5 linked regions of the Homo sapiens genome follow. The protein of the gene in region 1 interacts with the protein of each later gene in a pairwise test. Each region holds a gene or a part of one and is shown in the gene's direction. Other genes may lie near its edges.

Region 1 (4,145 bases):
AATGGCACAATCTTGGCTCACTGCAATCTCCGCCTCCCGAGTTCAAGCAATTCTCCTGCCTCAGCCTCCTGAGTAGCTGGGATTACAGGCGCGTGACACCATGCCTAGCTAATTTTTGTATATTTTTAGTAGAGACAGGGTTTCACCATGTTGGTAAGGCTGGTCTTGAACTCCTGACCTCGTGATCCGCTGGCCTCGGCCTCCTAAAGTGCTGGGATTACAGGTGGGAGCCACCGCACCAGGCCTCTTTTTTTTTTTGAGACGGAGTCTTGCTCTGTCGCCCAGGCTGGAGTGCAGTGGCGCGATCTCGGCTCACTGCAAGCTCTGCCTCCTGGGTTCACGCCATTCTCCTGCCTCAGTCTCCCGAGTAGCTGGGACTACAGGCACCTGCCACTACGCCTGGCTAATTTTTTGTATTTTTAGTAGAGACACAGTTTCACCGTTTCTACCATAGAGCCAGAGAGGGCCCCCTCCTGTTTTTTTATCTCTTACCAAGACCTCCTGGGGCTCCTCATTCCTTCAGGATGGTCTCGATCTCCTGACCTTGTGATCCGCCCGCCTCGGCCTCCCAAAGTGCTGGAATTACAGGTATGAGCCACCGCACCCGGCCTTTTTTTTTTTTTTTTGAGAAGCAGTCTCTGTTGCCCAGACTGGAGTGCAGTGGCACGATCTCAGCCCACTGGAACCTCTGCCTCCCGGCTTCAAGCAATTCTCCTACCTTGGCCGCCCAAGTAGCTGGGATTGCAGGCGCCCACCACCATGCCCAGCTAATTTTTTTTTTTTTTTTTTTTAGACGGAGTTTCGCTCTTGTTACCCAGGCTGGAGTGCAAGGGCGCGATCTCGACTCACCACAACCTCCGCCTCCTGGGTTCAAGCGATTCTCCTGTCTCAGCCTCCCAAGTAGCTGGGTTTACAGCCATGTGCCACCACGCCCAGCTAATTTTGTATTTTTTTAGTAGAAACGGGGTTTCTCCATGTTGGTCAGGCTGGTCTCAAACTCCCGACCTCAGGTGATCCGCCCACCTCAGCCTCCCAAAGTGCTGGGATTACAGGCGTGAGCCACCGCGCCTGGCCTCAAGTGGGTTTCTGAGGGGCTATTTCTTGCTCATTAGTTGGGGGACCGGCCCTCACCACAGATTCCAGAAGCCCAGCAATGCACACTCAGCCCTCAGTGGGCTGTCTCTGAAGGTCCTGTCCCTTTTTCGCTTCCCCCCCGCTGGAGCTGCTTCTCCCGCTTGCGGGAGCCCAGGCTGAGAGCAGACACCCAACCTGTCGAACCTGTCTGACGTCATCATCTCTCCACCCACCTGGGCCCCAGGTCTCCAGCCACCCCGCTCTTCCTGTTCTCAGCTTCCGTCCTCTCTGCTTCCTTACAGCACCCCCACCTGCCAGAGCTGATCCTCCCTAGGCCCTGCCTAACCTTGAGTTGGCCCCCAATCCCTCTGGCTGCAGAAGTCCCCTTACCCCCAATGAGAGGAGGGGCAGGACCAGATCTTTTGAGAGCTGAGGGTTGAGGGCATTGAGCCAACACACAGATTTGTCGCCTCTGTCCCCGAAGACACCTGCACCCTCCATGCGGAGCCAAGATGGGGAATGGAACTGAGGAAGATTATAACTTTGTCTTCAAGGGTGAGTTGGGTTCCCTGAAGCAAGAGGAAGCCTGAGAGACCCAGAAAGAGATTGAATAGAGCCAGAGAGGGCCCCCTCCTGTTTTTTTATCTCTTACCAAGACCTCCTGGGGCTCCTCATTCCTTCAGAAAGAAAGCTGCAGGGAGTGGGGGAGGGTCTGGTTGCAGGGGCAAAAGTCAGGGAGCTTCTGAGTATGCTCTACTGTGGTAAATAATGATGTTGATTCCTCCTTAAGAGTGCTGAGTTAGGCTCCTCTGCCCCGTTCCTAATAGAAACCCAAATCCCTGGTGTCAGCCAGTGCAGCACAAGAGATGGAGGTCAGACTTCAGAAAGGACTTCCCTCTTTTATTTTTTTTTCTGAGACGGAGTCTTGCTCTGTCGCCCAGGCTGGAGTGCAGTGGTACAATCTCAGCTCACTGCAACCTCCACCTCCTGGGTTCAAGCGATTCTTCTGCCTCGGCCTCCCAAGTAGCTGGGACTACAAGCACCTGCCACCACGCCCGGCTTATTTTTGTATTTTTAATAGAGACGGGGTTTCACCATATTGGCCAGGATGGTCTGGAACTGACCTCATGATCCGCCTACCTCGGCCTCCCAAAGTGCTGGGATTACAGGCATGAGCCACCACACCCGGCCAGGACTTCTCTCTTGAGAAGAAAGGGAAACCAGCAAACAAGAGGAAGAAAGTCATCTTTTCTGGGCAGGTGTACAGGGAACGAGAGAAAGGAGAGACACATCCCATTATAGGGTGGGGCAATAAATACATAGGGAAGACAGAAAATATCATGAATTTGCTGCAGAGTCTGATAGAATCCAGAGGACTCCTAGGGTTGTAGCCTCGTCTGCCTGGCCCTTGGCTGACTCACTGGACCTGCATACCAGGCACTGGGCTCAACTTTGCTGTCCCTGGAAGCATGCATGTATCTTTCTAGCCCCTGTGTTTGGTGCCTTTGCTGTTTTCCAACCCCACCTTCATACTTCCTTTAGGGCAGGGTGGACTCTCCAGCCACCCTACCCCAATGCCTCTCCCAACCTCAGCCCGGCCCCTCCCTTGAGCTGGGACTCTCACTCCAGAACCCGCCCTTGAGCTGGGGAACCTGTACTACTGGCATCTTTTCCAGGAAGGAAAGGGTTAGCAATAGTCTGGGGCAATAATATGAGGAACTACCATTTATTGAGCACTTACTATGTACCTGCCACTACCTCATTAATACCATAACAATCCCCGAAAGTCATATTTTATTTTGAGGGGCAGTGTAACATTGTGGTCAGGAGCCAGACTGGGTTCAGATCTCAGCCCTGCCACTTACAAGTATTGCGGGTTGGTCAGCCGGGTGCAGTGGCTCACGCCTGTAATCCTAGCACTTTGGGAGGCCGAGGCGGCGGGATCACTTAAGGTCTGGAGTTCCAGACCAGCCTGGCCAACATGGGGAAACCCTGTCTCTACTAAAAATTCAAAAATTATCTGGGTGTGGTGGCACGTGCCTGTAATCCCAGCTACTCGGGAGGCTGAGACAGGAGAATCACTTGAACCCAGGAAGCAGAGGTTGCAGTAAGCCGAGACTGTGCCACTGCACTCCAGCCTGGGCAACAGAGCAAGACTCTGTCTAAAAAAAAAAAAAAAAAAAAAAAAGTATTGAGGGTTGGGTTGGGGTCCCTAGAAGCAGACGCTGAGAAGAAGTTGGGGTGTTCAATGTTTGTTTGTTTTTTGAGACGGAGTCTCGCTCTGTTGCCCAGGCTGGAGTGCAGTGGAGCGATCTTGGCTCACTGCAATCTCCGCCTTCCTACAACCTCCGCCTCCTGGGTTCAAGCGATTCTCCTGCCTCAGCCTCCTGAGTAGCTGGGACTACAGGTGTGCACCACCACACCCAGCTAATTTTTGTATTTTTAGTAGAGACAGGGTTTCATCATGTTGGCTAGGATGGTCTCGATCTCTTGACCTTGTGATCCGCCCTCCTAGGCCTCCCAAAGTGCTGGTATTACAGGCGTGAGCCACCGCGCCCAGCTCAATGTTTTTTTACAAATCAGCACCTGTGAAAGGAAGGGAGAGGAAACATAATTGGGCAGAGGGAGAAGTCAAACAGCAACACAGGCTGGACAAACCTGGGTCAAGGGCGGGGAGCTCTGTGATTGCCTCACCTTGCTTGAGCACTGGGTGTAGGCTGCCCAGAAAAGGCATGACTTCCAGTGAGGCCGCTGTCTGCACCAGAGGCAGACGCTGAAGGAGCTGACAGCTGGAGCCTGTCTGCAGCCTGCACTCCCTGCAGCTTGGGGCAAGTCCTTCCTTGAAGGCTGATCTGGCCAGCACATCTCTGTGTTTACAACACTAGCCCTGTTATCTTGGGCAAGTCATTTGACCTCCAAAGCGCCTTGTCTGTAAAAACAGGTAAAATAGTAATGGGATTCATGGCATTCTTATGAGGATTAAATGAGGTAATATGTGTAAAGCTTTTAACGACACTGCCTGGCACATAGTAAGCATTCAGTACACTGTAAACATGAACCATTAGTATCTC
Region 2 (4,754 bases), on another chromosome or scaffold:
AACAGCTCTAAAGTATGACCCATACTGTTTTCAGTTTCTTTGTACAGTTGAACTAAAGTTACCATGCTTGGGACTTTCCTTAGTATCACATGTTAGCTTGACTTCCTTCCCTCTCTTGTCCACCTTCTCTACTCCCCTACCAGTCTTTTCCGGAAAACACTGCCTTACAAGTCTCTTGAGCAGGAATCCTTGTCTCAGGATCAGATTCTAGGAGCCCAAGTTAACCATAACTCATGGTGGCTTAGCTTAGTGGATGTTGAGAATCTCAAGGGCTTTGGCCCCTCTATGGTCCCAGGAAAGGCTGAAAAGAAGCATGGAGGTTGTGTGTCATGCTGTCACTTTCCTTCTGAGGCTCATTCTCTGTCTTGCATGTGGTTTTTTTCTTCTCTCATCCCTAGTTCCAATTCCGTTGATCCTCTGCTCCCCGTTTTCAGATGGGCCTATAAGCCCAGTGGATCCTGCTTCACCATGTTGGCGATCATCAGAATTTTGAAGTTTGTACTTGTGACTTGTGGATGTGGCATATTCCAATGGCCTGTAACCTGTAATCATTGAGCAGGCTCTTGCCCTGCCCTCCTTTGTTGATAGGTGTGTGTGTTTTTTTTTTTTTTTTTTTTTTTTTTTTTTTTATGACAGAGTCTCACTGTGTCACCAGTCTAGAGTGCAGTGGAACGATCTCAGCTCACTGCAACCTCTGCCTCCTGGGTTCGAGTGATTCTGCGGCCTCAGCCTCCTGAGTATCTGGGACTACAGGTGTGTGCCACCACTCCCGGCTACTTTTTGTATTTTTAGTAGAGACGGGGTTTTACCATGTTGGCCAGGATGGTCTCAATCTCTTGACCTCATGATCTACCCACCTCAGCCTTGTTGATAGTTTTTATGTGATGCTTTATCTAAGTAGGCTGAGATTCTGGAGAACAGAGGCCATACCAGATGTTTTTAGGAGCCTTCAGTGTGTTTGGTGATAAAAGCTAAATACACAAAGTACACTAACAATACAGGATTATCTGTGTGTCATTAGAGGAGTGCACATACTCCTCTACAAGTTACAGGCATTTTGTAGAAGTGTTGGTCTGGTGGGCTACAGTATTGCGGGAAAGGCTTCCTTTAAGGTGTAGTGGGACATGACTGGGGCCTAAAGAATGAATAGGATTTGAAATGCATGAGGAGGCTGTAAAGAAGGATGTTCTCTCAGGAGGAGACAGGGGAGAGTGAGTTTAAGCATAGGGACAGGTATGAGCTAGATGTATATGGGGATAATTATAGCACTATTTTTAACTATTTTGAAATATACACTTACAGAAACATTGCAAAAATAGTGCAGTTTCTATATTTTTCCAGATTGCTCCAGTGTTAACATGTCATATAACCATAGTGCAATTATTGAAACCAGGAGGTTAACATTTCTGTAATACTACTAACTGGTCTATAAAGCTCACCGGAATTTTACCACCTTTTTCACTAATGTTCTTTTTCTGGGCCAGGATCCTGTTTAGGGTTCCACATTGCCTTTAGGGTTGTAGCTCCCTGCCCCCCTCTAGTGACAGTTGCTCAGTTTTTTGTCTTTCATGACCTTGACACTTGAAGAACATTGGTCAAGCCAGGCACAGTCACTCACACCTGTAATCCTAGCACTTTGGGAGGCCAAGATGGGAGGATCCCTTAAACCCAGGAGTTCGAGACTAGCCTGGACAACATAGCGAGACCTCATCTCTACAAAAAATAGAAAAAATTAGCTGGGTGTGATGGCATGCACCTGTGGTCCTAGCTACTCTGGAGGCCGAGGTGGGAGGATTGCTTGAGCCTGGGAGTTGAGGTAGCAGTGAGCTGTGATTGTGCCACTGCACTCCAGGCTGGGTGACAGAGTGAGACCCTGTCTGCCCACCGCCCACCCCCCCAAAAAAAGCATTTCTCAATAATTTTGTAGAATGATTTTGGGTTTGTCAGACTGTCTTATGCTTACATGGAGGTTGTGACTTTTGGGCAAGAACACATCATAAATGCTGTGCCTTTCTCACTGCATCACCTCAGGAGACAGTGATATCAATGTGTCCTGTTACTGACGGATCACTTTGATCCCTTGGTTAAGCTGATGCCTGTCAGTTTCCTTTTATTGAAGAATGGAATTTAGAAATGAAGATCTGGTTGCTAGGTGTACTCATTACTACTTTTTGTAGTTATGTAGAAATTACAGAGACTAGAACTCAATAAATGTTTTATTAAGGGCAAGGGAAGTAGAAGAGTCAACTATGAACTTGAAATATCCACCTTGAGTGTGGACAGAAGTCAGGTTGGAGCAGGGATAATTCTTGATTTTTGACATGTTGGGTTTGGGATGAAAATGGTTTGTCTAAGTGAAAGCATTTATTTACATTTGGAGATTTACGAAAGAGCTTAGAGGAGAAATGTCAGGATCTGGGGTTCTTGCAAATGATGCCTGGGATTTGCTTTTCTTTAATGAAGAAATGCAGTTGTCTGATAGCATGGTGTTAATAAGGGTAAGATCAGGAGCTTGGTATGGGCATTTCCAAGGCCTTTGTGACTATGATCTTGAGGTGGACACCCTGGATATTGTGGCGCTCTCAGCTCCGACACATTGGAACAGATACTTTCTAAGCCTTGATTTCTTTATCTGAAGAATTGGGGTGGTACCTGCACCATGGGAAGGTTACTGGAGGCTTATAATCCTAATCCATGTGAAGTGCTTGTCTAACATAGTGTTGGCAACTGTTCATTAGTTTGCTTCTCCCTCCAGTCACCATGCTGGGTGGCAGTCAGCATTATGTGGCTAGCATGTTTTTTCCCCTAACCCTTCCCTGCTGTCCTGAAGGGGTCTTGATCACAAGGAGACTTGGTGAAAGAGGAAGTAGGATTGCTACAAACATGAACTATGAGAGCGGTAGACAAGATATGGTACTCCCCACCACCCCTGGGGAAGGAGCAAGAGCAGTCTGAAAGAAGTTTTAAGTTTAACCTGTGCTTTCTGGTCTCTTATTATAGCTTTAAAGGAAAATTAAAAAGCATTTTTCACAATGCTTCTGTTTTCCCTCTGTGAATACAAATGATTATTGAAACAATCCATACAATGCAGGAAAGACAAAAGCTCTGTAGTCTCATTCCCAGAAACAGCTGCTCTTGACCACTTAGGCATGTTCTCTGGACCTCCGTTGTCCAACAGGGTAACTGCATGTGGCTGCTGAGCACTTGCGATGAGGCTGGCCCAGCTTGGGATGAGCTGGAAGCGTGCAGTACTGTACACACTGGGTTTCCAAGACTTAGAAAAATGTATGCGAAATATCCTTCATACTTCTTATATTGGTTATGTGTTGAAGTGATTGTTATTTATATATTGGCTAAAATATTCTGTTCAATTCACCTTTTAAATGTGGTTATTAGAAAATTTAAAGTACCACAGGTGGCTCACAGTTGTAGTTTGCATTCTGTTTCTCTTGGGCAGTGCTGCTTTAGACTTATGCACAATATGTACTCAAAACAAATGGGATCATGCCATGTCTATTACTCTAAATCTTAATCTATGGCTATCTTTTCCTGTAGCCTACAAAGGCAATTTTGCCATTTTTAATGGCTGCACAAGGCAGCATATGGATGTACTGTAATTTTTTCTTAAAAATATACATTTTTTAAATTGCCAAGATCTGATGCCATATACTGTAATGTGTTTAACCATTCCCATGCTGATGAGCATTTAGGTTGGTTCCAATTATTTTCCTTTTGTTTTTTGTTGACAGTAATAATTGCACAAATTTATGGGGTTCAAGTGATTTTTTTAATACACGTATACAATGTATAATGATTAAATCGGGCAATTAGGTTATCCACCACCTCAAACATTTATCATTTCTTTGCATTAGAAACATTCAAGATCCTATCTTCTAGCTTTTTTGAACATACTAATAAATTGTTAATCTTTTGATACTGTGAAAGATTGTTCTTGTAACCTCATTTATTTTCTCAGAATAAATTCCTAAAGCTGGAATTGCTGGCATGCACATTTATAGTCTTCATTGATATGGCCAATAGCCACCACAAGAGAACCAGTCTGTTTCTTCGCCACTCTAAGTTCGGGTCATTGTTCTTTCTCTCTCTCTCTCTTTTTTTTTTTTTAAATTCTTATTCATACTAAATGTTTTACACATGTTTTAAAGTTGACTTTCATTGGAGGGTTGAGCCTCTGTTCACATGCTTGGTAGGCTCTACATTATTGATCACTGGGAACAATGTGTTGTTTTCCTTATATTTCTTGTTTGTATTAACTGGCATTATTTATAACTGTTTTTGCTCATTTAAATGACTACTCTATATTTTTTATTTTTTTGAGACAGGGTCTCATTCTGTCACCCAGGCTGGAGTGTGTGTGGTGGTGCAATCATGGCTCACTACAGCCTCAATCTCCTAGGCTCAAGCAATCCTCCCACCTCAGCCTCCCAAGTAGCTGGGAACAGGCATGCGACACCATGCCCAGCTAACTTAAAAATAATATATATATATATATTTTTTTCTGTGTGTGTGTGTGTGTGTGTAGAGATAGGGTCTCACCATGTTGCTCATGCTGGTCTTGAACTCCTGGCCTCAAGTGATCCTCCCACCTCAGCCTCCCAAAGTGCTGGGATTATAGGCATGAGTCACAGCACCCAGTCCACTCTATATTTTGAGATAGGAAAACATGGAAACCAGAATATTCAGGATACAATATATACATTTAAAGAATAAAGCACCTTGGCATGTATTTTCCC
Region 3 (4,754 bases), on another chromosome or scaffold:
AACTTTTTCATTTTCCACAACTGAAGCTCTATACCCATCAAACATTAACTCCTCATTCTCTCCTTCCCCTCCTCCGGCAATCACCATTCTACTTTCTGACTGGATGAATTTGACTAACCCAGGAACCTCACATAAGTGGACTCATATAGTGTTTGTCATTTTCTAACTGACTGATTTCACTTTTTTTTTTGTTTTTTTTGAGATGGAGTCTGGCTCTGTCGCCTAAGCTGGAGTGCTGGAGTGCAGTGGCATGATCTTGGCTCACTGCAACCTCCGCCTCCCGGGTTCAAGCAATTCTCCTGCTTCAACCTCCTGCATAGCTGGGATTACAGGTGCTCGCCATGATGCCCGGCTAATTTTTGTATTTTTAGTAGAGACGGGGTTTCGCCATGTTGGCCAGGCTGGTCTTGAGTTCCTGACCTCAGGTGATCTGCCTGCCTCGGCCTCCCAAAGTACTGGTATCACAGGCGTGAGCCACTGTGCCTAGCCTGATTTCACTCTTTTAAAAAATTCTTTATTTTTATTTATTTATTTTTAGAAACAGAGTCTCACTTTGTCACCCAGACTAGAGTGCAGTGGTGCAATTATAGCTCACTGCAGCCTCGAATTCCTAGGCTCATGTTGAGTAGCTGAGAGTATAGGCGCACACCACCATGCCGGCAAATTTTTTAATTTTTTATGGAGATGGAGTCTCGCAATATTGCCCAGGCTGGTCTTGAACTCCTGGCCTCAAGTGATCCTCCTGCCTCAGGCTCCCAAATCTCTGGGATTACAGGTGTGAGCCACCATGCCCAACCCCCTCCCCACTTTTTTTTTTTTTTTAATTCTGTGTTGTATTATTATTATTTTTTTACTCCCTGGCAGGGACCATTCCTTACTACAAACTTGATTTTCTCTGAGATTTAATTATACATCATTTGCACGCCACCCTTCTTAACTGTTTGTGTATGATCTTTGCTTTTTTTTTTTTTTTTTTTTTTTGAGATGGAGTCTCACTCTGTTGTCCAGGCTGGAGTGCAGTGGTGCGATCTCGGCTCACTGCAACGTCTGCCTCCTGGGTTCAAGTGATTCTCCTGCCACGGTCTCCTGAGTAGCTGGGACCACAGGCGCCTGCCACCACACCCGGCTAATTTTTTATATTTTTAGTAGAGATGGGGTTTCACCATATTGGCCAGGCTGGTCTCGAACTCCTGACCTTGTGATCCACCCACCTCAGCCTCCCAAAGTGCTGGGATTACAGGTGTGAGCCACCGCACCTGCCCTGATCTTTACATTTTTACCCTACTGAAGGAAAACATCACTCATCGGAAGTGATTCCATGGAATATTTTTTTTTCTTTATTTTTAGAATGAGCTCTTTATTGAATCAGGATTTGAGGTGATTATACGCTAAGCACAACACTGGATCCTATCTTTGTCTAGCGCGTGTCTTCTCAAAAATAAAAGTGCAAAATAAAAAACAAAACAAAAGAAATAAAAGTGCAAATTCTGCTCTCAGCCGGGTGCAGTGGCTCACGCCTGTAATCCCAACATTTTGGGAGGCTGAGGCGGGCGGATCATCTGAGGTCAGGAGTTCGAGTCCAGCCTGGCTACCATGGTGAAACCCCATCTCTACTAAAAATACAAAAATTAGCTGGACATGGTCACGCGCTCCTGTAATCTCAGCTACTCAGGAGGCTGAGGCAGGAGAATCACTTGAACCCAGGAGGCAGAGGCTGCAGTGAGCCGAGATGGTGGCATTGCACTCCAGCCTGGGTGACAGAGCAAGACTCTGTGTCAAAAAAAAAAAAAAAAAAAAAAAAAAAAATTCTGCTCTCATCTACCACTTCCCGAAGAGAAAGCATGAGAATGCATGCATTGAAGAGGCTGCTGGTAGCAGAGAGGAGAGGCCAGTTCATGGGGATTGTGAACATTGTTGCAGTTGCTTCCATTCAAAGGTAACTCCTCAGCCTTTCTCCTTTCAGGTGGTATAAGTTGAAATCCAAACCAGGAAAGAAGGACAAGGAGCGAGGAGAAATTGAGGTTGACATCCAGTTTATGAGAAACAACATGACTGCCAGCATGTTTGACCTTTCTATGAAAGACAAGTCTCGGAATCCATTTGGAAAGCTGAAGGACAAGATCAAGGGGAAGAATAAGGACAGTGGGTCAGACACCGCCTCCGCCATCATCCCTAGCACGACACCTTCGGTCGACAGTGATGATGAGTCTGTGGTTAAAGACAAGAAAAAGAAATCAAAGATCAAGACCTTACTTTCCAAGTCAAATTTGCAGAAGACGCCTCTTTCCCAGTCCATGTCTGTCCTGCCGACTTCAAAGCCAGAAAAAGTGCTGCTTCGTCCCGGAGACTTTCAGTCCCAGTGGGATGAAGATGACAATGAGGATGAGTCCTCCTCGGCCTCGGATGGTGAGTTTCTGCCTCTTCCTGCTTGACCTCTCTTCTTCCTCTTACCATGCTTCGTTCTGAGAGAGAAGAAACAGACAAATCTCAAGAGAAAGAGTTTAATTCAATTCCTCAATTACAAAATCATGGTGGTGGGGATGATGATAGCGGTGGTTAAGATGCCCTCTCTAAGGCTAGGCGTGGTGGCTCACGCCTGTAATCCCAGCACTTTGGGAGGCTGAGGCAGGCAGATTGCTTGAGCCCAGGAGTTTGAGACCAGCCTGGGCAACATGGTGAAACCCTGTCTCTACAAAAAATATAAAAATTAGCCAGATGTGATGACATACTCCTGTAGTCCCAGCTACTCAGGAGGCTAGGCTGGGAGGATTGCTTGAGCTCAGGAAGTAGAGGCTGCAGTAAGCTGTGATCGTGCCACTGCACTCCAGCCTGGGTGACAGAGTGAGACTCTGTCTCAAAAAAAAAAAAATGCCCTCTCTGTTTCTTTTTTTAAAATATTTTTTGTTTGTTTGTTTTAGAGACAGGGTCTTGCTCTATTGCCCACGCTGGAGTGCAGTGGCGCGATCATAGCTTACGGCAGCCTCCAACTCCTGGGCTCAAGGAATCCTCTCACCTTGGCCTTCTGAGGAGCTGGGACTACAGGTGTGCATCATCACACCTGATTAATTAAAAAAAATTTTTTTTTTAGAGATGAGGTCTCACTATGTTGCCCAGGCTGGTCTGAAACTCCTGGCTTCAAGTGATCCTCCTGCCTCAGCCTCTCAAAGGGCTCTTATGACCGGTGTGAACCATTGCCCATGGCTGAGATGCCCTCTCTATTTCTAAGCCCTCTGGTTTCTTTCCTTCTTTCTTCCTTCCTTCCTTCCTTCCTTCCTTCCTTCCTTCCTTCCTTCCTTCCTTTCTTTCTTTTCTTTTCTTTTGAGATGGAGTCTTGCTCTGTCACCCAGGCTGGAGTGCAATGGTGCGATCTTGGCTCTTTGCAACTTCCGCCTCCTGGGTTTAAGCAATTCTCCTTCCTCAGTCTCCCGAATAGCTGGGATTCCAGGTCCGTGCCACCACACCCGGTGAATTTTTGTATTTTTAGTAGAGTTGGGGTTTCACCATGTTGACCAGGCTGGTTTTGAACTCCTGACCTCAAGTGATCCACCTGCCTTGGCCTCCCAAAGTGCTGGGATTATACCCTCTGGTTTCTAAGAATGTATAAATTCCTTTTCCAGAGTTCCTGGCTCTATAAATGATGTCCACTAGTACAAGCTTTTAGAGCTAACAGAATGAGTGTCTTCCAAGTTTTTTTTTTCTTTTTTTTAAGGGTAAAACCATGGAACCTTATGGTAATTCTGATATTTCATTAATTCATCAGGTAGTTATTGAGTTCCTGTGATGTGCTCAACCCTCGTGGGATATAGCCTTATCAGAAGCCAAGGAATCTGCTTCCTTTAGCTCTGAGTTAATTATGTATTTTGAACTTCAATTTCAATGTCTAAATCCCTCCCATTGGCCGGATTCTGCTACTCTACCAAGAGTGCTGCCCTTTTCATTGGTTTAACCCAGAGTTTCTCAACCTCAGCACTGTGGACAGTTTAGACTAGACAGGCCTTTGTCGTGGGGGGCTGTGCTATACGTTGTAAGATGTTCAGTATCATCCTTGTCCTCTACCTGCTGGATACGAATAGCAGCACACCCCCTCCAAGTTGTGGCAACCAGAAATGTATCCAGACGTTGACAGATGCCCCTACACTGCAAACCACCCGTTTAACATCTTATCCCCTTTCTGTTCTTTTTCTTCCCAAAGTCATGTCTCACAAGAGAACAGCGAGTACGGATCTTAAGCAACTGAACCAGGTCAACTTTACCCTTCCCAAGAAGGAAGGACTTTCCTTTCTTGGTGGCCTTCGGTCTAAGAATGATGTCCTTTCCCGCTCTAATGTCTGCATCAATGGGAACCATGTTTACCTGGAGCAGCCAGAAGCCAAGGGTGAGATCAAGGATAGCAGCCCGTCCTCCTCCCCATCCCCCAAGGGCTTCAGAAAGAAGCATTTGTTCTCTTCTACAGAGAACCTGGCGGCTGGGTCTTGGAAGGAGCCTGCTGAAGGAGGTGGGCTGTCTTCTGACAGGCAGCTCTCCGAATCTTCCACCAAGGACTCCTTGAAGTCTATGACCCTGCCGTCCTACCGACCTGCCCCACTGGTCAGTGGGGACCTCAGGGAAAACATGGCCCCCGCAAACTCAGAGGCCACAAAAGAAGCTAAGGAGAGCAAGAAGCCAGAGAGCAGGAGGTCCTCTTTGCTGTCTCTGATGACGGGGAAGAAGGATGTGGCTAAGGGCAGTGAAGGTGAAAACCCTCTCACGGTCCC
Region 4 (4,754 bases), on another chromosome or scaffold:
GGGTCCCCCATTTCATAGGCAAGGAAGCTGGGAGAGGGTCCCCCCATTTCACAGGCAAGGAAGCTGGGAGAGGGTCCCCCCATTTCACAGACAAGTTCAGAGAGGCTCCCCCCATTTCATAGGCAGGGAAGCTGGGAGAGGGTCCCCCCATTTCACAGACAAGTTCGGAGAAGGTCCCCCATTTCATAGGCAAGGAAGCTGGGAGAGGGTCCCCCCATTTCACAGGCAAGGAAGTTCAGAGAGGGTCCCCCCATTTCACAGACAAGGAAGTTCGGAGAGGATCCCCCATTTCATAGGCAAGGAAGCTGGGAGATGGTCCCCCCATTTTATAGGCAAGGAGTCTGGGAGAGTGTCCCCCCATTTCATAGGCAAGGAGGCTGGGAGAGGGTCCCCCCATTTCATAGGCAAGGAGGCTGGGAGAGGGTCCCCCCATTTCATAGGCAAGGAAGCTCGGAGAGGGCCAGTGCTTTTTAACGGTCACGCAGTTCTGAGCATCAGGCTGTCAGCCTGGAGCCTGGCTTGGTACTGAGGTTCCCAGGATGTATAAAGAACTGAACACGCACCTTTGCTGTTGGCTCTTCTGTGCGAGTGCTCTGAGAGTTTTCTGTACTCCCGGCAAGTTTGGGTTGGTACAGATTCACCACAGCGAATCTGACCACGTGGTGACCACAAGCACGCGCTTACTGCGCGCCTAAGTTCACACTCCCTGGAGAAGCTCCTGCCCCAAGGCCGCAGCCTATGGGCCTTTGCGTCTACTCAGGACCATGAGGCTGTGTCCCCGAGCCTGGCCCGGGTAGTAACTGGCATGGCCTGCGGTGCTGGGGGCGTGTCCACAGGAGCTGGTGCCACAGAGGACACGTGTGTCTGCTGTCTTCCTGGACTCGGTCGGACCAGTTTCCCAGTGTGTCCGTGAGGGTGACACTGAGTGAGACTTCTGGGATCCACACCTTTCCTGGGACCCTCACTCTTCCTGCCACAGAAAGCACCTGTGAAAGTCTGAGATCAAGAATGTGCACAGGGGAGGTGTCTGCAGGTCAAGGTCCTGAGCTGATGTCTCACAGGCCTCTGGTAGAGACGAGATTGTTCGTGTCTCTGCGAAGAAGGGCATGTTTTATTGCAGCCAAGTACAAAGTCCTCTCTGCCACTCGCTGGCTGGGACTGAGGTCATGTTCTGTCAGGTTCCAAAGAGCGCCAGGAAGACTCTGAGACCACAGAGCACGGCCTGCTTTCTCCCAGCCCCTGGTAAAGATGTCCAGCCTGGGACCTCCCCCTGTATATAGTGCTTTAAGTGGGAGAAGACCACCACCCAGATCAGGGGAGGACCTGTCCCCTGCAATGCTGCTGCCTGCTTTTCAGATTGACTTGGGAGTGCTTGTGCTGACGGAGCATGTCCTGTGGTTTTTCCCTTTCTTCCCTCTGTTGTTGTGCCTTTTCTGTAGGTACCTGCACCAGTCAGGGGCCCTGACCATGGAGGCCCTGGAGGACCCTTCCCCCGAGCTCATGGAGGGCCCAGAGGAGGACATTGCTGACAAGGTAGGCCCTGGAGGGCTGGGTAGGTGGCAAGTAGGGGATTTAGAACACAGCCACGCCTAAGGGCCGCTGCAGACACCCCGGGAGGTGGGGACAGCACAGCCGGAGGTGACCCCATGTCCTCCAGGGCTCCCCAGACTGTCCATCCAGCCCCGATGCTCTTTGGCAGGTTTCCCCAAGGGGTCTCGTGGCCATGTGAGAAAAAGGAGTCTTCCTGTTGTGCACGAAGGGCCAGCTGGGAGGAGTGGACTGGGCAGTGAGTGAGCACCCTCGGGTATCCCACCCCCACTGTGTCTGAGTCGGGCTGGGGGACACCCAGACATTCAGTCCACCAGGCCCATGGAGACGCGACCTGGGGCACCCATGATTTGGGAGAAAAGGGCTGGCCCTGCAGTTACTGCAGAGCCAACAGCCTGAGGAACGGGCTTCTCCTGGGGCCTTGAATGGAATGGGTGACAGCAGCCAGGGCAAGGCAGCCTTGCCGTGGTCAAGACCCGCTTTTCAGCCAGATGTGGTGGCTCACGCCTGGAATCCCAGCACATTAGGAGGCCTAGGCGGGCAGATCACTTGAGGTCAGGAGTTTGAGATCAGCCTGGCCAACATAGTGAAAACCCGTCTCTACTAAAAATACAAAAGTTAGCCACGCATGGTGGCGGGCAACTGTAATCCCAGCTATTTGGGAGGCTGAGGCAGGAGAATCACTTGAACCTGGGAGGTGGAGGTTGCAGTGAGCCGAGATTGCACGACTGCACTCCAGCCTGGGCGACAGAGGGAGACTCCGTCTCACCTTCTGCACCCCCTCACCTTCTGTGACCCCTTCACTTACTCCTGTACCCCCTCAATTCCTCCTGTACCCCTCATCTCCTCCTGTACCCCCTCACCACCTCCTGTACCCCCTCACCACCTCCTGTACCCCCTCACTACCTCCTGTACCCCCTCACTACCTCCTGTACCCCCTCACCTCCTCCTGTACCCCCTCACCTCCTTGTGTACCCCCTCACCTCCTGTACCCCCTCACCTCCTCCTGTACCCCCCCACCTCCTCCTGTACCCCCTCACCTCCTCTTGCACTCCCATCTCCTCCTGTACCCCCTCACCTCCTTGTGCACCCCCTCACCTCCTGTACCCCCTCACCTCCTCCTGTACCCCCTCACCTCCTCCTGTACCCCCTCACCTCCTCCTGTACCCCCCTCACCTCCTCCTGTACCCCCTCACCTCCTCCTGCACTCCCATCTCCTCCTGTACCCCCTTACCTCCTTGTGCACCCCTCACCTCCTGTACCCCCTCACCTCCTCCTGTACCCCCCTCACCTCTTCCTGCACTCCCATCTCCTCCTGTACCCCCTCACCTCCTTGTGCACCCCTCACCTCCTGTACCCCCTCACCTCCTCCTGTACCCCCCTCACCTCTTCCTGTACCCCCTCACCTCCTCCTGCACTCCCATCTCCTCCTGTACCCCCTCACCTCCTTGTGCACCCCTCACCTCCTGTACCCCCTCACCTCCTCCTGTACCCCCCTCACCTCTTCCTGTACCCTTCACTTCCTCCTGTACCCCCTCACCTCCTCCTGCACCCCCCTTACCTCCTGTACCCCCTCACCTCCTCCTGTACCGCCTCACCTCCTCCTATACCCCCTCACCTCCTCCTATACCCCCTCACCTCTTCCTGCACCCTCCTCACCTCCTCCTGCACCCCCATCTCCTCCTGTACCCCCCTCACCTCCTGTACCCCCTCATCTCCTGTACCCCCTTACCTCCTCCTGCACCCCTCACCTCCTGTACCCCCTCACCTCCTCCTGCTCCCCCACCTCCTCCTATACCCCCATCTCCTCCTGTACTCTCTCACCTCCTCCTGTACCTCCTCACCTCCTCCTGTACTTCACCTCCTCTTGCATCCCCACCACCTCCTCCCTACAACTTCTCTAGCATCTCAAGTCTGCTGACCCAGGCCAAGTCCTCCTCTGCTCCCTTCACTCCTTCTCCTACCTCCGCAGGTGTCTGATTCTCATCTTGGTGTGAACTCTCTGAGGGAGGGACCGAGACATGGATCTGTCTGTCCCTTGCATCCATGGGCACCTGGGCTGCCTCTGTGAGCTGCATCTGGCTGAGCAGAGACCCAACTGTGTGTTGGGGGGCTGAGTCTTGCTGCCCACCAGCCAGCCAGTCCAAAGGCACCCCTGGGCCCCGAGCCCTCAGAGCTGCGGCACTGTGTGCATTTGTGGGTCGAATGACAGTGCTCCCCAAGACCCCGGCCCCATTAGGAGCTGCACCTTTGTGGGTTTATGGGACAAGTTGGATCCAACACCAGCCTAGCTAGGTGGATCTGATTCTGTGCTGAGAAAATCCCCAGGCGGCCTCCCAGGTTGTTCCCTTGGGGGTGCAGGCCCTTCTGCTTCTGGCTGCCTGACCCTGAAGCCTGGTCTCATTGCCAAGGTTGTCTTCCTGGAAAGGCGTGTGCTGGAGCTGGAAAAGGACACGGCAGCCACCGGTGAGCAACACAGCCGCCTGAGGCAGGAGAACCTGCAGCTGGTGCACAGGTGAGCCTGGGCCAGGAGACCCGGGCCTCTGCGTGGCGCCTCCTGTGCCCGCCTGTCAGCCCCCATTTACTTCTCTTTACCTCACACAGCAGGGGCTTGGCCACCCGTCCATCCCCGTTGGAAGCCGGCTGAGGGGGTGGTGCCAGGTGGTCATCTGAGCCTACCCAGTGGGCTGCAGGCAGGCGACCCGAGGCTCTGACTGGTGCTCTCATGGAACCCTAGACACACAGAGGGCCAGAGGAGGGCACTGCCTCCCTCTCGGGAGCGCTGAGACCTGACCCACACAGAGGAGGAACTGACTGCGAACCCACGCAGTGCTCAGCCTCACCAGCAGGCCTGGAGGTGCAGCTCTCCCACCACTCTGGTCCATACGGGGTTTGCCCGTCCTGGAAGAATGCAGGTTAGAGAAGTCGCTCAGCAGCAGAAAGCGAAATGAGCAGTGACTGCTGAGTACGCGACAGGACGCGCAGTCTCATCGCTGTGGGCAGGAGTGCTGGGGAGGAAGCGAAGTGTGACGCCGTGTTTGCAGAGAAAGAGTGGGAGCTGCTTGCCTCACTCTGGTTTGCAGACTTTTCTTAGAATACCGTGTAATTCTCGGTGTTTTTCACACGAGGCACGCCATGTTGTCTCATAGCCGATTTGCAGGACTGTTTCCGGTGCAAAGTAAGATGAGCTTGTCCCAGGAGTCAGC
Region 5 (4,754 bases), on another chromosome or scaffold:
CTGTGCACCTGGCAGTCCCTTCAGGGAAGAGTCTGATCACAGTGCCCTTACTGAGCTGGCCTGAGGTTATTTCTACCTTGGGAACAATGGTGGCCAGAGAGGAGAGGGACTTGGCTGGCCACATGAGGCCTCTGTATGGAGCTGGGCCCCGGCCTCTCAGGAGCAGTAAGTGGGGCCTCCCAAAACGGGGCTCCCAGGGGCAGCCAGCACCTCCGAGAAGCTGCAGGGTGGGGAGGGGGTATCACAGGCCACTGTGACCTTTGGTTCACCTGGTAGTGGAGAAGGGAGCACAGCCCTTACTCATGGGACTCCAGCATGGGAGCTGGAAGAGAGCTCAGACAAGGAAACTGGGGTTTGCAGAGGGAGAGCTGCACACTCTCACTACCCAGCACTTAGTGGAGGGTGTGCTCTGTGTGGTTTCCATTAGACCCGGGCAGCCCACAGAGCTGTAGGATTTGGGGTAAAGAAGAGGTGGCATTTGGAGCCCTGTGTGCACCCCGGAGTTTCTGTGGAAGTGCCTGCCAGGTTTTAGTGAGATGGGGACATTGGGCTTCTCTGCTGACCTGGAAGGGTAGTCCAATCCAAAGGCAGTTCTAGAGGCCTGAAAGGCCAAGAGTGGGCCACTGGTGGGGGAGAGATTCCAAAGGGGGGGAAGCCTGGATATCTCCCTACATTTGGAGGAAGCCCTATAGCCAAGTGCTGTGTTTTGGGGCCTAGACAGGGAGCCCTGGAGATGTTCGGAGCAGACAGAGCCACTGGCGCTGGCTGTGGTCTCCTCCTCTGTGAGGAGGGGACATACACCAGAGACCTGTCGGCCATCATGGAACCCATCTGCCTCCCCAGCCTTCTCTGAATCCCCACATCTGGAGCATGTGGCACCTGTTTTGGTGCATTATTTTCATTGCCTCGTTGGTCTAGTGCATTGCTGATGAAGGCCTATCTGGGTGCTGGCACTGTCTTAAGGTCTGGACTTCCATTTGTCCACAGCAAGCCCTTGAGGTGTAGGTGCTGTTTAACAGCTGAGGAAACCTTGGCACGGAGAGGTAAAGTGACTTTGCTTTTTCTTTCTTTTTTTTGAGGGGGTGGGGTCAGGGTCTGGCTCCATCACTGAGGCTGGCATGCAGTGGTGCCATCATAGCTCACTGCAGCCATGAACTCTCAAGTGATCCTCTTGCCTCAGCTTCCCAAAGTGCTGAGATTATAGGCATGAGTCACTGGACTTGACCACAGCACATGGCACAAAGTCAGGATGTGAACCCAGGCAGTCTGGCTTCCCAGTCTATGCTCTTGGCCACCACACCACACTGCCCACCTCAGTCTTCCCCCATGTCTTCCATGACCCTGCTCTGCACAGGGCCAGGTGCTCAGCTGCTGCCTGCCAAGGCTTCCTCTCTTCTCCTTGACATGGATCTCGGGGGTTAATCTGGTGCTCTGTAGGCATGACCTGCTTCTCCTGGGTGAGTCCTTGGTTTATTGGGATAAGCACATTTGGTCTGCAGCTCTAGCCTTATGTCTGTCCCAGAGGCTGGGGGATGTTGTCTCATACTTTGGGAGGGAGTCACTGCCACCAGATACCTCTCGGGAGTGGAGTGAGGGCTGGGTGTGGTGGCTCATGCCTGTAATCCCAGCACTTTGGGAGGCCGCGTCAGGAGGATCACTGGAGGCCAAGAGTTCAAGAGCAACCTAGGCAACATAGCAAGACTCCATTTCTACAAAAATACAAAAAATTAGCTGGGCATGGTGGTGCACACCAGTAGTCCCAGCTACTCAGGAGGCTGAGGTGGGAGGATCACTTGAGCCCGGGAGTTCAAGGCTGCGATTAGCAATGATTGCCCCACTGCACTCCAGCCTGGGTGACAGAGCAAGATCCTGTCTCAAAAAATAAAAATAAAAAAAGGAGTGGAGTGAGGCCTGAGAAGGTCAGCCTCACTTTCCACCAGGGCACTTTCCACCCTGGGGAGATTTGCTCCTTTCAAGCAGGGCTTGGGGGCATCAGCACATACCAGACTCCGTAATCCTTCCCAAGACGTCACATGCTGGTTTTACTGTGACAGAACACTCCAAGCCATCCTGTTCTTCCTCCTGCAGCAATACAGTCATTTGCTATTTTTTCCCTTCTGTTTCACAACATCCAGGAAGCAATTACTGGACAACCATTGTAACCACTGTGCCTAGGTCAGTGCTGTGGGGGAAACCAGGGAAATAAAGTGGATAGCCCTTTCTCCAGAAGGGCTAAAATATGTTTGAGATAAGCCTAACGCAGCAAGGACAATTCCTCTACAAAGCAGCATATAAAAAGCGTGAGAGAATGAGGGGGTCAGGAGAAGAGGGAGCTCACCAGTTGGAGTGATCAGGGTGGGCTTCTTGGGAGAGGTGAGGCCTTGAATAACAGGTGAGACCTGATTAGAGGCAGGGTGAGTTGGAGGCAGGGAAACTGTGAGTGTGGTGGGACTGGGCCAGGAGAGGGAGTGAGGGGAGCCAAGCTTAGTTCCCTGTGTGCCACTCTCAGCAAAACAGCAGGACTTTCTTTACTTCCTATTTAGTTTTGTTTTGTTTTGTTTTGTTTTTTGAGACAGAGTCTTGCTGTGTTGCCCAGGCTGGAGTGCAATGGTGTGATCTTGGCTCACTACAGCCTCCGCCTCCCAGGTTCAAGTGATTCTCCTGCCTCAGCCTACCGAGCAGCTGGGACTACAGGTGCGTGCCACCACGCCCAGCTAATTTTTGTATTTTTAGTAGAGACCATGTTGGCCAGGCTGGTCTCGAACTCCTGACCTCAAGTGATCTGCCTGCCTCAGCCTCCCAAAGTGCTGGGATTACAGGTGTGAGCCACCACACCTGGCCCCTATTTACTTTTGAGTAGTTCACCTGGTCCAAATTCTAAAGGTACAGAAGGGCACATAATGAAAAAAATTTCCCTTGACCCACCTTAAGTCACCTAGCTCCTCTCTTCAGAGACATCCAACATTACCAGTTCTTGTGTAACCTTCCAAAGGTGTTTTCTGCATTTAAAGGCAAATGCGTTGTGTTTTTTCTTCCCTCCCTCCTTGTTCCCAAATGCAACGTTCTCACCACACAGTTCTGTACTTCCCATGAGCCTGGCAGGGAAGTTATTGTTTGTTTCCCCCTGTTGTGGGGTCTGAACTGAGACCTTGGCAGAGGGGACCATCGCCACTTGGTTTTGTCTTCCTCAACCTGAGTCTCCTGGTCAGGGTGAATATGGGGTTAGGAGCACACTGGGGAGGGGGATGGGTTAAGTGGAATTTCTTTATTTTTCCACCTGCCAGAGATCCCCTGAGAGAGGTCATCTTGCGGGTTCTCTCCTTCCTCCTGGGCAGGGTTGTTGCTTTTTGGTCCTGGGCCACCTCACTTATATGGGGCTGATGATGGCCTGTAAAAGGCCTTTGATAGACAATAAACCCACATCTTTCTGTGTGGTTTGGCCTACTTTTAAGGGTGCCTTCCCAGTATCACCTCATTTCATTCTTCCCTGAGGGCAGACAGGGGGATCACCATTTTTGCGAATATGGAGACTGGGGTCTCAGGAGGTGGAATGACCTGTCCAAGGTCACACAACTCTTTAGTGGCAGCCAGATTTCTGATGTCTAAGCCTGATGCTTTTCTCCCTACACTGTGCTATCAACCCTACATCTTTTCTGTTGCTCTCTGTGGTTTGACTTGTCTCCAGCCATTTTTGCAGCTTTTCCTTGTGCTGGGTGAGCTGACAGTGACAGACCTTTGGAGCCTACAGCATTAGGATGAGGATTAAAAGTGCTTGTGCCCAGGAGGGAGGGAGGCTGGACCTGGCTGGGGTCTGAGGAGGGATGAGTGAGCTGTCCCCACAGAGGCAGGGGGAACTCATGAATGAGGACCTGGGCTCCCTCCAAAGGTTGCTGGTGCCAGGCATGGTGCCAGAGGAGGTGATAAGAATCATCTTCTGGCCTGATAAGAGGCTGTATCCTGTCCTGCAATTATGTCTGGCTTGCAGTTTTACTGTAGATACCAAATCAAAAGATGGGGTAGGCGGTGGATGCGGGGAGACAGCAGGGGTTGGCTTGAGGCCCACACAGCTCCTGTGTGCCAGTGTGTGAGGCAGGCTGCTGTGGTGGGCACTTGGAGAGGAGAGGAGGCATCAGGGTGGAGGAGGCTCTAGGGAAAAGGGTTTTCCAACTGTGTCACCATACTCTGAATATAATAGTTCTAGTTTCACTTTACCTTGTCTTTAACTGCATGATTTTATCACCCTCATTTTACAGAGGTGAAATGGCTGCTTCAAGCCACTTAGTAAGGCAGAGCCAGGACTAGAACCTAGGTCTCCCATCTTCCAGTCCACTGGGGTTCTCACACAAGGCCCTTAAAATCATTGTTTTTCCAACTTGTTTCTGAGACAAAAGCTGAGCCCTGCCAGTTCCATGTCATTTACCTGGCAGGTGTTAGAAGATGTTCTGCATCTCGGGTCCCTTCTCAGGTGGTGAGGGATAAGAGGTCAATAACTGTCCCTGCTGCCAACAGTAGTGAGAGATCAGAGTGGAGTGGCTCTGCCATAGTGCTGCCGCAGGGGGCGAAAAAGGGGTGCTCCCAGGGGCCCCCCTGGCTCTCCTACCTTCCCCATTGTTCCTGTCCTAGTTCAGGCTTAAAAAAAAATTTTTTTAACCTCTGCTCTGGGCTGTTACCTTAGCTGCTGCTGCCTTTTTATAAACCAGAGTGCCAGTTTATTAATTAATGGTGAGAAATAACTGCTAAGGCATTAGGAGTTG

The links.
Region 2: the proteins of RAB25 (region 1) and MYO5B interact in binary tests that used the Homo sapiens proteins (3 or more experiments, as listed by UniProt).
Region 3: the proteins of RAB25 (region 1) and RAB11FIP1 interact in a two-hybrid assay, tested with the Homo sapiens proteins (one study listed by BioGRID).
Region 4: the proteins of RAB25 (region 1) and RAB11FIP3 interact in a two-hybrid assay, tested with the Homo sapiens proteins (one study listed by BioGRID).
Region 5: the proteins of RAB25 (region 1) and RAB11FIP5 interact in a two-hybrid assay, tested with the Homo sapiens proteins (3 studies listed by BioGRID).

What each region holds. Positions count from the first base shown.
Region 1 is NC_000001.11:156,059,815-156,063,959, forward strand, and holds the start of RAB25 (ras-related protein Rab-25 precursor), read left to right. Parts: upstream 1-1,345; 5' UTR 1,346-1,586; coding exon 1,587-1,629; intron 1,630-4,145. UniProt on the Homo sapiens protein: The small GTPases Rab are key regulators of intracellular membrane trafficking, from the formation of transport vesicles to their fusion with membranes.
Region 2 is NC_000018.10:50,184,661-50,189,414, reverse strand, and holds part of MYO5B (unconventional myosin-Vb), read left to right. Parts: intron 1-4,754. UniProt on the Homo sapiens protein: May be involved in vesicular trafficking via its association with the CART complex. The CART complex is necessary for efficient transferrin receptor recycling but not for EGFR degradation.
Region 3 is NC_000008.11:37,874,761-37,879,514, reverse strand, and holds part of RAB11FIP1 (rab11 family-interacting protein 1), read left to right. Parts: intron 1-1,963; coding exon 1,964-2,406; intron 2,407-4,192; coding exon 4,193-4,754. UniProt on the Homo sapiens protein: A Rab11 effector protein involved in the endosomal recycling process. Also involved in controlling membrane trafficking along the phagocytic pathway and in phagocytosis. Interaction with RAB14 may function in the process of neurite formation.
Region 4 is NC_000016.10:501,565-506,318, forward strand, and holds part of RAB11FIP3 (rab11 family-interacting protein 3), read left to right. Parts: intron 1-1,439; coding exon 1,440-1,533; intron 1,534-1,699; coding exon of another isoform or gene 1,700-1,729; exon of another isoform or gene 1,730-2,101; intron 2,102-3,959; coding exon 3,960-4,063; intron 4,064-4,754. UniProt on the Homo sapiens protein: Downstream effector molecule for Rab11 GTPase which is involved in endocytic trafficking, cytokinesis and intracellular ciliogenesis by participating in membrane delivery. Recruited by Rab11 to endosomes where it links Rab11 to dynein motor complex.
Region 5 is NC_000002.12:73,102,383-73,107,136, reverse strand, and holds part of RAB11FIP5 (rab11 family-interacting protein 5), read left to right. Parts: intron 1-4,754. UniProt on the Homo sapiens protein: Rab effector involved in protein trafficking from apical recycling endosomes to the apical plasma membrane. Involved in insulin granule exocytosis. May regulate V-ATPase intracellular transport in response to extracellular acidosis.